Linked DNA regions of Homo sapiens. The protein of the gene in region 2 interacts with the protein of the main gene of each other region in a pairwise test. Each region holds a gene or a part of one and is shown on either strand. Other genes may lie near its edges.

Region 1 (7,028 bases), on a different chromosome or scaffold from region 2:
ACTATACATCCAACAAACGGCTAATATCCAAGATCCACAGGGACCTCAAATCAGCAAGAAAAAAAGATAATAATCCCATAAAAAGTGGGAATATGTGAAGAGAGATTTTTCAAAAGAAGCCATACAAGTGGCCAACAAACATATGAAAAAAATGCTCCACATCACTAATCATCAGAGAAATAAAAATTAAAACCAAAATGAGATACCACCTTACAGTCAGAATGGCCATTAATAAAAAGTAAAAAAAAAAAAAATAGATACTGGCATGGATGCTGTGAAAATGGAACTCTTACTCACTGTTGATGTATTAGGTAAATTAGTACAACTTCTATGCAGAACAGTATGGAGAGTTCTCAAAGAACTAAAAACAGTTCTACCATTTGATCCAGCAATCCCACTAATGGATATCTACCCAAAGAAAAAGAAGCCATTATATCAAAAAGACACCTGCACTTATATGTTTATTGCAGCACAATTCACAAACGCAGAGGTATGGAATCAACCTAAGTGCTCATCAATGGATGAGTGGATAAAGAAAATGTCAGATACGGATATAGAGATATAGATAGATATAGATAGATAGATCATGGAATACTACTCAGTTATAATAAAAGAACAAAATAATGTCTTTTTGCAGCAACTTGGTTAGAATTGGAGGCTATTATCCTAAGTGAAGTAACTCAGAAACAGAAAACCAAAAACTGCATATTCTCACTTATAAGTGAAAGCTAAGCTATGGGTATGCATGGGCATATAGAATGGTATAATGAACACTGGAGACTCAAAAGTGGGAAGGGGATGAGAGATTAAATATTACCTATTGGATACAATGTACACCATTCAGGTGATGGGTACACTAAAAGCCCAGACGTTACTACTATACAATTCATCCATTTAACCAAACCCCTAGAGCTACTAAAATAAATAAATAAATGAAAAGACAGCAGAAAATACATGACTAGCCCACATGAATATTACTAATGTATAGTTACCTATATACAGCATATATTACAAATCTCTTGAGGTCTTCTTTGTATCACTTGAGTTCCTATTGTTGCTATAATGAATTATTCCAAGTTTACTGTCATAAAAGCCACACACATTTATTATTTTCCCATTCTGGAGGTCAGAAATCTGAAATTGGTTTCACTGAGCTGAAATCAAGGCGTCAGCAGGGCCAATTCTCTCTTGAAGGTGTAGGGGAGAATCCATTTCCCTGCCTTTTCCAGCTTCAAGAGGCACCTGCATTCCTTGGCTCATGGTCCCTTTCTTTATCTACAAAACCAGCAACAGAGACTCTTCAAATCTCCCTCTCTCTCTTGGACTCTGACATTTCTGCCTGCCTCTTTCACTTATAAAAACTCTGGTAATTGCATTGAGTCTACACTCAGATAATTCAGGATAATTTCCCCATCTCAAGATCCTTAATCTAATCACACTTGCAAAGTCCCTCTTACCAGGCAGGGTAAGGTATTCACAGCTTCCAGAAAATAGGATGTGGTCATCTTGGAGGGGCCATTATCATGTCTACCACAAGGTATTAATTAAAACATCAGAAGCAGTTTTAAATTAATTTGCCTTGTACTTAATTATTATGTATCAATTTACCTTTGGGTCAGATAATATATGTGAGATTGATTCATTAACTAGAAAATGAAAATAAAATTTTTAATAGAGTTTTTATACTAGTCAATTATTTTCTGCTGAAAGGCCTTTAAGTTGAATGTTAAAATTGTTATTATAAACTTCCATGTAATGGTAGTTGGGTAGCAATAACAATAAACTGATAGTTTTCTGCCTGTAGCAGTATTTTGATGAGACTATTTTTGACTGAAACTCTTATTTTGTATTTAAAAAATCACTGCATTTTATGCTGTTATTTGCTTCACTGAATTATTTAATTTAATATGTTCTATTAAAGAGACTTTAAAGCTAGATACAAATTTTTTCTCCGTATACATTTTTAATATTCACATTTTTAACCTAACGACCTAAAGATAAATTTGAATTTCTCAAACTATTCAACCTATAGTTTTTCCTCTGTAAAACTGCAGTGATACTGAACAAAACTGCTGCAAAGAATAAATAAGATAATGTATCTATAACTGTAGCCAAATTGCTGGGCCATAACAGGTAGGTAGGTCTTCAATAAACTTTTAGCCTGATCCAAAATATATTCCACAAGATTTGCTGACCAATATTGAAACATGTTTCTACAAATACTGCAGATGAATAATACTGTGGGTGTTGTTTCTTAGTAAACTTGCCAAATTTTAAATATTTGGTTACTCTACACAATTAAATAAAATTTTAACATGAGCATCCAAGTAACTCTATTTACTAAAAATGGCTGTTTCTTTACATGATATATGACTAATGAGTGAAGCTATCCTATAGCTATACAAAATGATAACGTTAAGCATTTTTTATTTTGTCTATCTAAAGGTGCCAATACATTGTGAAGAAAATTCTGTTAATTTCATTATATTTAATACAGCATATTCCAACTTAAAGTTATTCAGAAGATCAACTGAAGGCAAATCTAAAAGACAGCAGTGCTTTAAGAAATAAAAGTCATAAAACAAAAGTTTTTCAGTGGTTATAAATTACTTTCAAGTTGCATTATTTCAAATTTCTTCCTGTAATCTCATGTTCCTAGCTCTTTAACTCCCTTTGATTAAATGATGTTCCTTTGCTTTCACTATTTTCTTTTTGTGAACTTGTCAAATCATCTTTGTCTTGTCTTGTACAATTTAAGAGACTTTTATGTAGCTCTCTGAGCGACTATCACCACACAAGTCCAACTGGGAGAATAATTTATGAGGTTCAAAATGAAGGGTCATTATGAATGCTGTCTTTCCCGCAATGAATACATACACTCTCTTGTTCATGCATGACAGGATTTTAACTAAATCAATGGAGATAGATGCTTTTAAATGAAGTATTATGAATGATATCATTGGTTACATAAAATAATTTACTTTTTATGTAATCTTTACCTTGTTTAATAAATTTAGAGAACTGGAAGAAAACTTCTTTAGGTGTGGGTTTATCTGTAACTGTCACATAAGTATTTCTTTGGTAGAAAACACAATTTCAAAAGTTGTAGTTTTATGTCCTTAGGTTAACATCTAGTATCCAGTCATAAGCCAGAATATTATGCATAGTAAGTATTCTGCACAATGATACTAAATGCAGAGGAAAAGCAAAGAGAGTAGATTTTCTCAATTTTGAAGAGAGGTTAATTTTTAAGTGTTTTTACTTTATCAAAGTATTCCTGACTGGTGTTCAGCAATCATTGGTTCTAGTAATGTTTATTTGGCTTTTTCTTATCATTTCAGTGCCCAGTATCTTTTTTTTTTATTACAACAGACAAATCTAATTACTTCTGATTAATCTCAATAGCTGTGATTTGGATTATGAATACTTCCCTTCCAATCTAACTGAAATCATAAATGTTTCCATGTCACCTTATTTTTTATAAGCACATGGTGTAAGGCATACCAAATAAGAAAATATATTAACTTTTATCAGAGAGACAACTGTAATAGAAAACTCAATGTTTATTTTAGTATATTTATGTATATATGTTCTATTATTTTAAACAGCCTGTAAACCTAAGCCTCTCCTCTTATCTAAAAATCATCCGTCCTCCTCTCATTGCCTTTGCATTTTCACTAAACTCCCCTCTGTGTATTTATCTTGCTTTTTAGGTATTTACTTGTGTGAGTAGTTTATGTTTTTTCATATGTCCTGAGCTCTCTGCCTTACCCACCATGCCTTGACTATAAAGAAATGATAGCTAACTTTGGCCAGGTGTGGTGGTTCACGCCTGTAATCCCAGCACTTTGCAAGGCCGAGGCAGGTGGATCATAAGGTCAGGAGATCGAGACCATCCTGGCCAACATGGTGAAACCCCGTATCTACTAAAAAAAATATAAAAATTAGCTGGGCATGGTGGCGTGTGCCTGAAGTCCCAGCTACTCGGGACGCTGAGGCAGGGGAATTGCTTGAACCCAGGAGGCAGAGTTTGCAGTGAGCCGAGATCGTGCCACTACACTCCAGCCTGGCAAGAGAGCGAGACTCCATCTCAAAAAAAAAAAAAAAAGAATTGATAGCTAACATTAATTGAGCTCTTGCTATGTTCCAGATGCATTAAAAGCTTTTTAACATATTAATCCCTTTCATCTTTAAGCCAGATGAAATGGGTACCACTGTAATCTTCACTGTATAGAGGAGGAAACAGAAACTCAGAACAGTGAAGCAATCTGAGTAGAGTCACACAGCCTCTAAGTGGCCGAAGCCAAAATCTAAACCTGGGTTAAGAGCCACCGAACACATGAGCATCACCCACATCTGGAGAACTTCAGTGCATACATTTTCCCCATGCTTGATTTTCAAATCACCAAGTACTTTTAATTAACCTTCACTATTGTTATGATTTGACATTTGTTGTTCTATATATACAACTAATATCTGCCCCATACCATGCCAGAACATAAGAATACAACACCTAGTATTTTATAGATGAGTAATAGCAGCTGCCATTTATTAAGCTTTTGCCATGTGCCAGGCACTGCATCTTATTATTTAATACTCAGAAAGATCTATGGGGTACCTACCAATTTATTTCCACTTTAGAGATGAGGAAAGTGAGGCAGAGAGAGGTTAGATGACTTGCCCAAGATCACACAGCTAGTAAATGGTGAAGCCAGGATTTAAACTCAATGGCTGAACTCCAAAGCTTGGCTCTGAATGAGTGAAGAGATGTGTTCCTAGAAATCTAGCTTGGAGAGTCAAGAAAAGTAATAGGGAGGAGATGACATTTGACATATCTGGAAGGGCAAAGTGGGAAAGAAAGGAAACAATACACTCAAGGGAGACAACAACATGGATAAAGTACTGAGGAATGGTGTACCTGCAGCATAACAGGTGCTCAAAAATGCAAATGAAAAAAATGAATATCTTTATAGCCCATGAGTTAAAAGGTTTTCCACATCTAAGTGTTGTATGACTAGTGCTCTCTGTGTGTTTCTTTCAGTGCCACCGTGGGCCTTAATTGCAATAGCCATAGTCGCAGTCCTTTTAGTCCTGACCTGCTGCTTTTGTATCTGTAAGAAATGTTTGTTCAAAAAGAAAAACAAGAAGAAGGGAAAGGAAAAAGGAGGGAAGAATGCCATTAACATGAAAGATGTAAAAGACTTAGGGAAGACGATGAAAGATCAGGTAATGTATTCTTTCTACATTTCTTCTTATTTTGTTTAAAAAAGATAAACAAATGTATTATTTTATGCCATATAATTACAGAAATAAACAACTTCTGGACCCATATCGTTTTTGAGATGCTTTGCAAACCTTTCAGTCATTGTTCAAGATCCCAAAGCATAATGGAAGCATTTGGCAGGGTTTTCCAATCTCCTGAGCATATAGAACAGAAAAGGGCATCCATGATCATCAGGCCCATCTTGATGGGTTTGGCATATGAGAATGATGCCTGAATATTTTGATTACATCTGTTTAACCAGTCTTCATTGCGTTTAGAGTTAGAAAAATCAGATAAAAAGTGCCTGAGTGTTTTGCATTTGGGCAGGGGATCTTTCTAATTTCTACTGTTCATAGTCACTGTTAAATAACTGAGTTTTACGGCTGTTCATCAAACTGGATGAAAGCTGCTTTTCCTACATGTCCATCCAGCTGAAAAATTAATTCTCAAGAATAATGAGTTACATGGGAGAAGGGAGAGAAATATGAGCCAGTTCTAAAGAACACGACAGGATAGAATTTTTGCCTTATGAAAAAGTTTTCTTTCTTATTTCTTATAAGACAAAATTCTCATTTCAATTTAATAAGGACAATTACAACCATAACACTGGTTATAAAATCCATCTGGCTGGGTTATCTTTCCAAGCCCAAAAAAGCTATTTGGATGTTCTTTATGTTGCTATCTGTTTTTGGCTAAATTAATTGGACAACTTGGTTCAAGATAATGTTTACTATTATTAATGATAATTATTAAATGCCTCTTCATTTTTGAAATAATATCCATGTTGAATATCTCTAAAGAATATTTAATTCATATTTTAAAATTAAAATGTAAATGTACAGATTTTTTATAGAATTAACATTTTCAATTATCAATGTTTTCATCAAATACAAAAGTTTTATTTATTCCCAAATAGCAAAATATATAAGCAGTTTTATAAATTCCTCTTATACTATTAATTACTATTAATCAAACTCTTAAACCTGAATCTCCTTAAGAACAATTTAATCAGGTGTTACAACAGGCATTTTAAGTACATTTGCGTTGTTTCCTAGTTCATTACACATTCAGGGACATTAACTCCCCTTCCCAGCTTCAGTTTTAAACTCTTTTTCCTCAAAGACACTATAGTATCTATTGATAATAATTTCACAAAGGCTCATGTTTTACTCCCTGCATTTTTGTTCTGTTTTGGAGCTATGGAATGGATGAAATGCCTGTACTCATACTCAGAGAGTTTTGGCCTGAGCTCGGAGTAGCAAGGGTTTGATTTTTCTGGCAATTTCTAATCACAGTCACAAAAGCCAATGCATAAACGTTCAACTACAGGTGTCTAATAAAGATTTTTCTCTTCAGTTAATTTAAGTAGAAACTAAAATTTCCAGGCATGTCTTACTTTATTTCCACACTTTTCATAGCAAGCAGGACTTGATAAAGATTTCTTTAAACAACTTATTGGGAGATTAAGTGTGGAAATAACCTCCTAGATGGACATGGACTGAATAATATGTATGTTAATTTTATCAATATTGTGAAAACAATAATTTGACAATAGATCACTATCTTTTTCATAATTATCATAAAATTTGAATGTGGTTTCCCTGTGTTCTAGAACTAATTAAAATTACTGAATAATGTTAAGTGATAACGATAGCATTTCTTCCTAGGACAATAAATCTATAATATTTGTGGGATTTGTTCTGTATGATGTAAAATTATAATTTACAGCATAGTGGTGGTGTTTATTACCCCTGTTATGACCTGG
Region 2 (7,028 bases):
CTTTCTTGCAGTGACCGCATCTTCTCACTCATTTCTTGTAATTCTTGTTTTAGTTGGGCAATTTGGCGTTTCAGACTGGTTGCCCTGGTCTGATAATGTTCTTCTTGTTCCTGTAGGAGGGCTTGATAATACTCTTTACCATAATTTTCCCCAACAACACCAGGAAGAGATGCATTTCCATCAGTCTGGGGGGCACATTCCAGGAGGTACATAAATAATACCAAACTGCAGAGCAAAGCAAGGCCCAACAGCAACCAGTGGGTCCGGGTGTGAAGAATCAGTCCTCTTCTAGGCATTCTTATTAATGTGTATTTGCCTAACAAAATAAGCTCTTTGTGTGTTCATACCTTTAGTAAAAAGTTATCAAAAATTAAAAACAAAATCAGAATTTCCATAAAATAATTCTGCCGTAGCTTTAAGTTTTTCTTTCTTCAGCAGTCATGACTACTTGCAGAAATGGGAAATTATGTATACTTTCTGTATTGTTACCATGATATCCAGAATAAAGCAATCTGATATATAAAATCCATTATATTGGTAGTGATTTTTCTGAAAGACACAGATCAGAATCAATCAGAATTTTGTTCCCTTAAGGATATCAAATTTGTTTGTGGCTTCAGTAAACTTAGCTACGTGACTACTACATGCAGAGAACTATGAGAGGTACTAATATAATTTAGAATATTCAGTAAATACTAGGAGAATTTTTTTTTTTTTTTGAGATGGAGTCTCACTCCGTCACCCAGGCTGGAATGCAGTGGCACAATCTTGGCTTACTGCAACCTCTGCCTCCTGGGTTCAAGTGATCCTTCCATCTCAGCTTCCTGAGTAGCTGGGACTACAGGCATCTGCCTACCACTCCCAGCTAATTTTTGTATTTTTAGTAGAGACAAGGTTTCACCATGTTAGCCAGGCTGGTCCTGACCTCAGGTGATCTGCCTGTCTTGGCCTCCCAAAGTGCTGGGATTACAGGTGTGAGCCACTGAGCCTGGCCTGGGAGAATTTTTTAAAATACCTTAAAAAACAATAAACTATGTATAATACTTTTAACTATTATGTCTACACAGCTATAACTTGAATCAAAGAAACATTAAAATTACGTCAGCATAGTCTGTATTACATATATTCTACTGTTCTCTAATTATTTGAAAATTATATTGCCTATAACTCTTTATTAACATAGTATTTCAATTACCGCACCATTTCCCAACTAAAGCTTATGACCATTTGGGAACTGAGTTTATAGAAACTGTTTCTGTTACAGTAATAACGGTTTACTGGAGAGAGAGATTTTCTCCCAGTTTATTCAACTCAAGCATTCTACCTCATTAATTTCTACTGCTCAGCTCAGCCAATCTAGGAGACTTAAAATTAAGTGGGGGAAAGAACAACTTCAAAAGCTCACAGACATCTGAAAAACACATTAAGAAAACATTTTTATATCCAATGTCCTCCAGTAGATTATTTGCACATTAGATCACATAATTCTTTCCACTGTATTATGCATCAACAGATTTCCTACAAGTCTAGAAAGGTTTGGAGTCTATATAAAGAAAAAACATGAAGAATTTAATCATCCTTATCAGCAGAGAAAAAAATTCAAAAACCATTTATACATTTATAAAATTACATGCTATCGTTCATGCCACAACCAGTTGTGCGAACTCTTCCATGTCTTTAATGATTCTTAACTCTAAAAATAGAGGTTTAACTTAGGACAAGGGAGGCAAGGAGGACTCCACTGCAAAGAGAACTTCCATTGTAACAAAGTGCTTGTTGAGAAGGATAATGTGATATGACAGCAGGTTTTTAACAGTAATGGTTTTCTCACTGCAGCAAAACCTGGAAGATCACTACAGGTTATCAGTCCTAGCCACTTTTTTAATGAGTAGAAAAACCTGGATGCTTTCTGTGGCAAATGCTGCAATGCGTATTTTTTTTTTTTTGGTAACATGTCTGTATAAAACATAGGACAGAAGAAAACTTCTTATGGCCAATATACCACAAATAATGGTCTTAACTCTCCTTAGTCATTTATTATTTTAGTAAACGAAATGATAACCAAGTATCTTGAAAAATTTAACTCACTACAAGGGAGTCCTTTTTTTTTTGAGACAGAGTCTTGCTCTGTCGCCCAGGCTGCAGTGCAGTGGCGCGATCTTGGCTCGCTGCAAGCTCCGCCTCCTGGGTTCGCGCTATTCTCCTGCCTCAGCCTCCCGAGTAGCTGGGACTACAAGCGCCGGCCACCACGCCCGGCTAATTTTTGTATTTTTAGTAGAGACGGGGTTTCATCGTGGTCTCATCTCCTGACCTCGTGATCCGCCCGCCTCGGCCTCCCAAAGTGCTGGGATTAGCCACCGCGCCTGGCCAAGGGAGTCTTTTACTATTACAGCATCTCTCTTACTGATTATAAATCTTGTTTGAGTGATGTAGAAAAAAACAGAAAAAAAATAGTTGGCTTTAAGAAATACCATCTAATCAAAAAATAACTAGTATTATTTCCAGGACTTAACCATACCTCAAAACCATAATCCCTAGCATAAGAAAACACTTGAATTTCATTATTTAAAAGATAAACCTAGCGGTATCTGTTTTAACTATTACTAGCCCATTTATTAGGAAAAAGAACTGAAAATGTGGAGACATAATCTTGTATAATAAAGATATACATACTTTAATTAATAAAGATATACATACTTAAGCATGTTATACTCAAAACTGAAGTGAAACTGGGTAACAGAACTACCACTATCTTTTATTAATATGGTACCTCATATGTTTTCTTTATATACACAATGTATTTTAGACTATGAGCTATAACTCAGACAATAGGTCACTACTGAAGGTTTACTTTTCAATAAAATAGAATGGAAATTATCAGTGGCAGTGTTAAAAAGCTAAGGTCATTTTTCTTCCTCTTCCCTTTAAGGGAAATACAGGTTTTGAGATATCCTACTTAATATTACAGTTGAATATTTTCCAATAAAATGAAAGGATACTGTAATTACTTCAGAATGTAAAAGTTGCATAATTCTGTGGTTATTAAAAATGAAAGATTTCAATTAAAATCTTATTTGCCTAGTTCCCGAAAGAAACTCTTTGGCCATAATCTAGAAGATTACATTATAGCTGTTCTATCATATAAATATATTAAGAATATTATAGAAAACATTTTTCTGTTGTTACATCTTGATTGTCATCATTCTATGAAATGTGTTTGTATCATGAATACGGTTCATTCACAGCCCAGAGTTAATCCCAACAAGCCTTCTAAGCACAAATGCAGATAGTTAAGTGTTTTGAGGAGAGAAAAGGATAATGTGAAGATGGGAAAATAAGCTGTTAAAGGTATGTAATATGAAGCCAAAGATCTCAGGATTGAAAGAAACCTTACAAGCCATCAATTCTAACTCTCTAAAACTGCTTAAAAAACTGACTTCCTTTTACGACCAAGATGAAGTAACGGGCCAGATTTACTCTCAGATTTGCTCTCTTTGGTTGTCTTGAAACAACCAAAAACAAACAAACAACTTTTCCTGCCAACAAACCCAAAATATGAAACAATGATTTTCAAGATATTTAACATCAGGTAACAAAGGACAGTGATCCCCAGAGAAACAAGAAACAAGTGGTTGCCAGCTTACTGCCTTAGTTTCTGAGCCACACAAGGAGGGGAACCTAAGCAGAGCCCAGCAGATTCCCTGAGTTCATGGGATGCAGCTCATAGTCTGAAGAGACCAAGGTATCTAGGATTAAAGCATATAGTACCAGAGTGGATACAGCTGCACACAGAGAGAACTCCAGAAATCTGAATAGGATATCCCATGGGTATTTGGCAGAGCACTGATAAGTAAAGGCTTATGAGGCAACTAACGGGCTAAGGAAAGGACCACACACAAAATTAGAGGACACAGAACCCAGCATTCATACAGGGCCAGGATTAGTGCATGTTCCCAACAGACAGACTGGAAAACCTCAGAATTCCCAGGGCACTCGGTAGAGCACTCAAAAAAATCTTGTCTCAGTAGTGGGAAATAATTAGCTCTAGACTAAACATGGCACTAATCCTGCCAATACATCTTAAAAGCAAGACTTGAAAGGATCACATTATTTCCAAGTAATAGCACAACAAGCCTTAAGAATATTTATAAGAATACAGAAATATCCAGTACTCAACAAAATAAAATTCACAATATCTGGCATCTCAACAAAAATTACCAGGTATAAAAAAATATGATCCATAATGAAAAAAATCAACAATTAAAACTGACCAATGATTAGAACTGACAGATGTGGGAATCTGCAGAAAAAGGACACCAAAACAGCTATCATAACTGTATTTTTAAAATGATGTTTATGTTCAAAAATTTAAGTAGAGGTATGAATGACATAAAAGAGATCCAAGTTAAACTTCAGGAGATGAAAATTTCAGTGTCTGAGATGAAAAATACACTGAATGGGATTAATGGCAGATTAGATATTTTAGAAGAAAATATTAGTAAACTAGAGATGTAGCAAAAGAAACTATGCAACATACAGAAAGAAAAAAGAATCAAAAATATAAACAAAGCATTGATAAGCTCTGTGACAACTTCAAACAGCCTAATATACATGTAACTGGAGTCCCCAAAGAAGGGGGAAGGAGTCAGGAGAAATACTTAAACAAATAAGGCTGAAAATTTCCCAAATTTGATGGAAACTATAAACACACATAAGAAGCTCAACCAATCCCAAATAGCCATAAAGAAAATTATAGCAAGGTACATGATAATCAAATTGCTCAAATCCAATGTAAAGAGAAAATCTTTAAACTGGCCACATGAAAAATGCACATCACATACAAGGAACAAAAGATAATAATGACAGATTACTCTTTGAAAACTGAAAGTAATTAGACAGTGGAACAATGATCTTTAAAGAACTAAAAAGAAAAATATGCCAGCCTACAATTCTATACCCAGAGAAATTATCTTTGAAAAAGGCAAAATACTTTCTCTACATAAAAAGCTAAAGGAATTCATCACCATCATACCTGTACTGTAAGTCTTTTAGGCAGAGGAACATAATACCAGAAAGGAATATGGATTTATACAAAGCAATGAAAAACATCATTAATGTTAACGACATTGGTAACTAAGATTTTTGCTCATTATTATCTAAATCTCTTCAAAAGATAACTGAATAAAATGGACAAAATCCTAGAAAGATAGAAACTAACAAAACTGATTTAAGAAGAAATACCAGATATGAATAGACTTATATGACAAAAGATTGAATTAATAATAATAAAAAAACTACTCACAATGAAAAGTCCAGGCCAAGAGGCTTCACTGGTGGAATGTACCAAACATTTATTTATTATTACTATTATTTTTTTTGAGACAGAGTTTCGCTCTTGTTGCCCAGGCTGGAGTGCAATGGCGCGATCTCAGCTCACCGCAACCTCCGCCTCCCACGTTCAAGGGATTCTCCTGCCTCAGCCTGCCGAGTAGCTAGGATTACAGGCATGCACCACCACGCCTGGCTAATTCTGTATTTTTAGTAGAGATGGGGTTTCTCCATGTTGGTCAGGCTGGTCTTGAACTCTCGACCTCAGGTGATCCACCCGCCTCAGCCTCGAAAAGTGCTGGGATCACAGGCGTGAGCCACCACACCCAGCCTAGCAAACATTTAAATAAGAATTATTATTATTAAATAAGAATTATCTTCACAGACTCTTCCAAAAAATAGAAGAGGAAGCATTCTATAAGGTCAGTATCATCCTGCTACCAAATCCAGACATTAAAAGAAAACCATAGGCCAATATCCTATATGAATATAAATACAAAAATCCTCAACAAAATACTAGCAAAACGAACCCAGCAATATATAAGAGGAATCATACATCATGGCCAAATAAGATTTATCCCAGGACTGCAAGGTTGGTTTAACATCTGAAAATCAATTAATGCAATATACCATATCAATAGAAGACAAAATTCACTTGATCATCTCAACAGACATGGAAAAAGCATTTGACAAAATCCAACACCATTTCCTAATAAAAACCATTCAATAGGGGCTGGGTGCGGTGGCTCACACCTGTAATTCCAGCACTTTGGAAGGCCGAGGTGGGCAGATCCCACGAGGTCAGGAGATAGAGACCATCCTGGCTAGCACAATGAAACCCCGCCTCTACTAAAAATACAAAAAATTAGCCGGGTGTGGTGGTGGCATGCACCTGCAGTCCCAGCTACTCAGGAGGCTGAGTTAGGAGAATCACATGGACCTGGGAGGCGGAGGTTGCAGTGAGCCGAGATCACGCCACTGCACTGCAGCCTGGGCGACAAAGCGAGACTCCATCTCAAAAAACCAAACCAAACCAAACCAAACACCATTCAATAAACTAGAAGACACCTTCCTAATCTAAGAAAAGGGACCTACAAAAAACCCATAGCTAACATTGTATTTAATGATGAAAGACTGTATGCCTTCCCCCAAGATCAGGAATAAGACAAGGATGTCTGTTCTTGTCACTTCTATTTATATTGTACTAGAGGAGGTTGTAGCCAAGGCAATTAGGCAAGAAAATGAAATAAAAGGCATCCAGATTGAAAAGGAAGAAGTAAAACTATCCTTATTTGCAGATGATATGATCTGTATGCAGAAAATCCTAAGGAATTCACTAAAAATCTATTATAACTAATAAATGAGTTCAGCCAGTTGTAGGATACAATATCGATATACAAAAATCAATTGTATTTCTCTACATTAGCAACAAGCAATCTGAAAATGAAATTAAAAAAACAATCCTGTATACAATATGGCATCAAAAAGAATAAAATAGGAATAATGTTAACAAAAGAACTGCAAGACTTGTATTCATAGAAACTACAAAACATTGTTGGAAGAAAGTTAAGATTTAAATAAACAGAAAGACACCACACTCATGATTGGAAGGCTTAATATTGCTAAAATGGTAATATTCCCCAATTAATGTACAGATTAAACACAATCCTCTTCAAGAATCCCAGTGGACTTCTTGCAGA

What was found. The genes of interacting proteins can lie anywhere in the genome.
Region 1: the proteins of CSGALNACT2 (region 2) and SYT1 interact in binary tests that used the Homo sapiens proteins (3 or more experiments, as listed by UniProt).

Annotation. Positions count from the first base shown.
Region 1 is NC_000012.12:79,280,746-79,287,773, forward strand, and holds part of SYT1 (synaptotagmin-1), read left to right. Parts: intron 1-5,041; coding exon 5,042-5,226; intron 5,227-7,028. UniProt on the Homo sapiens protein: Calcium sensor that participates in triggering neurotransmitter release at the synapse. May have a regulatory role in the membrane interactions during trafficking of synaptic vesicles at the active zone of the synapse.
Region 2 is NC_000010.11:43,148,418-43,155,445, reverse strand, and holds part of CSGALNACT2 (chondroitin sulfate N-acetylgalactosaminyltransferase 2), read right to left. Parts: intron 5,660-7,028; exon of another isoform or gene 5,303-5,659; intron 550-5,302; 5' UTR 297-549; coding exon 1-296. UniProt on the Homo sapiens protein: Transfers 1,4-N-acetylgalactosamine (GalNAc) from UDP-GalNAc to the non-reducing end of glucuronic acid (GlcUA). Required for addition of the first GalNAc to the core tetrasaccharide linker and for elongation of chondroitin chains.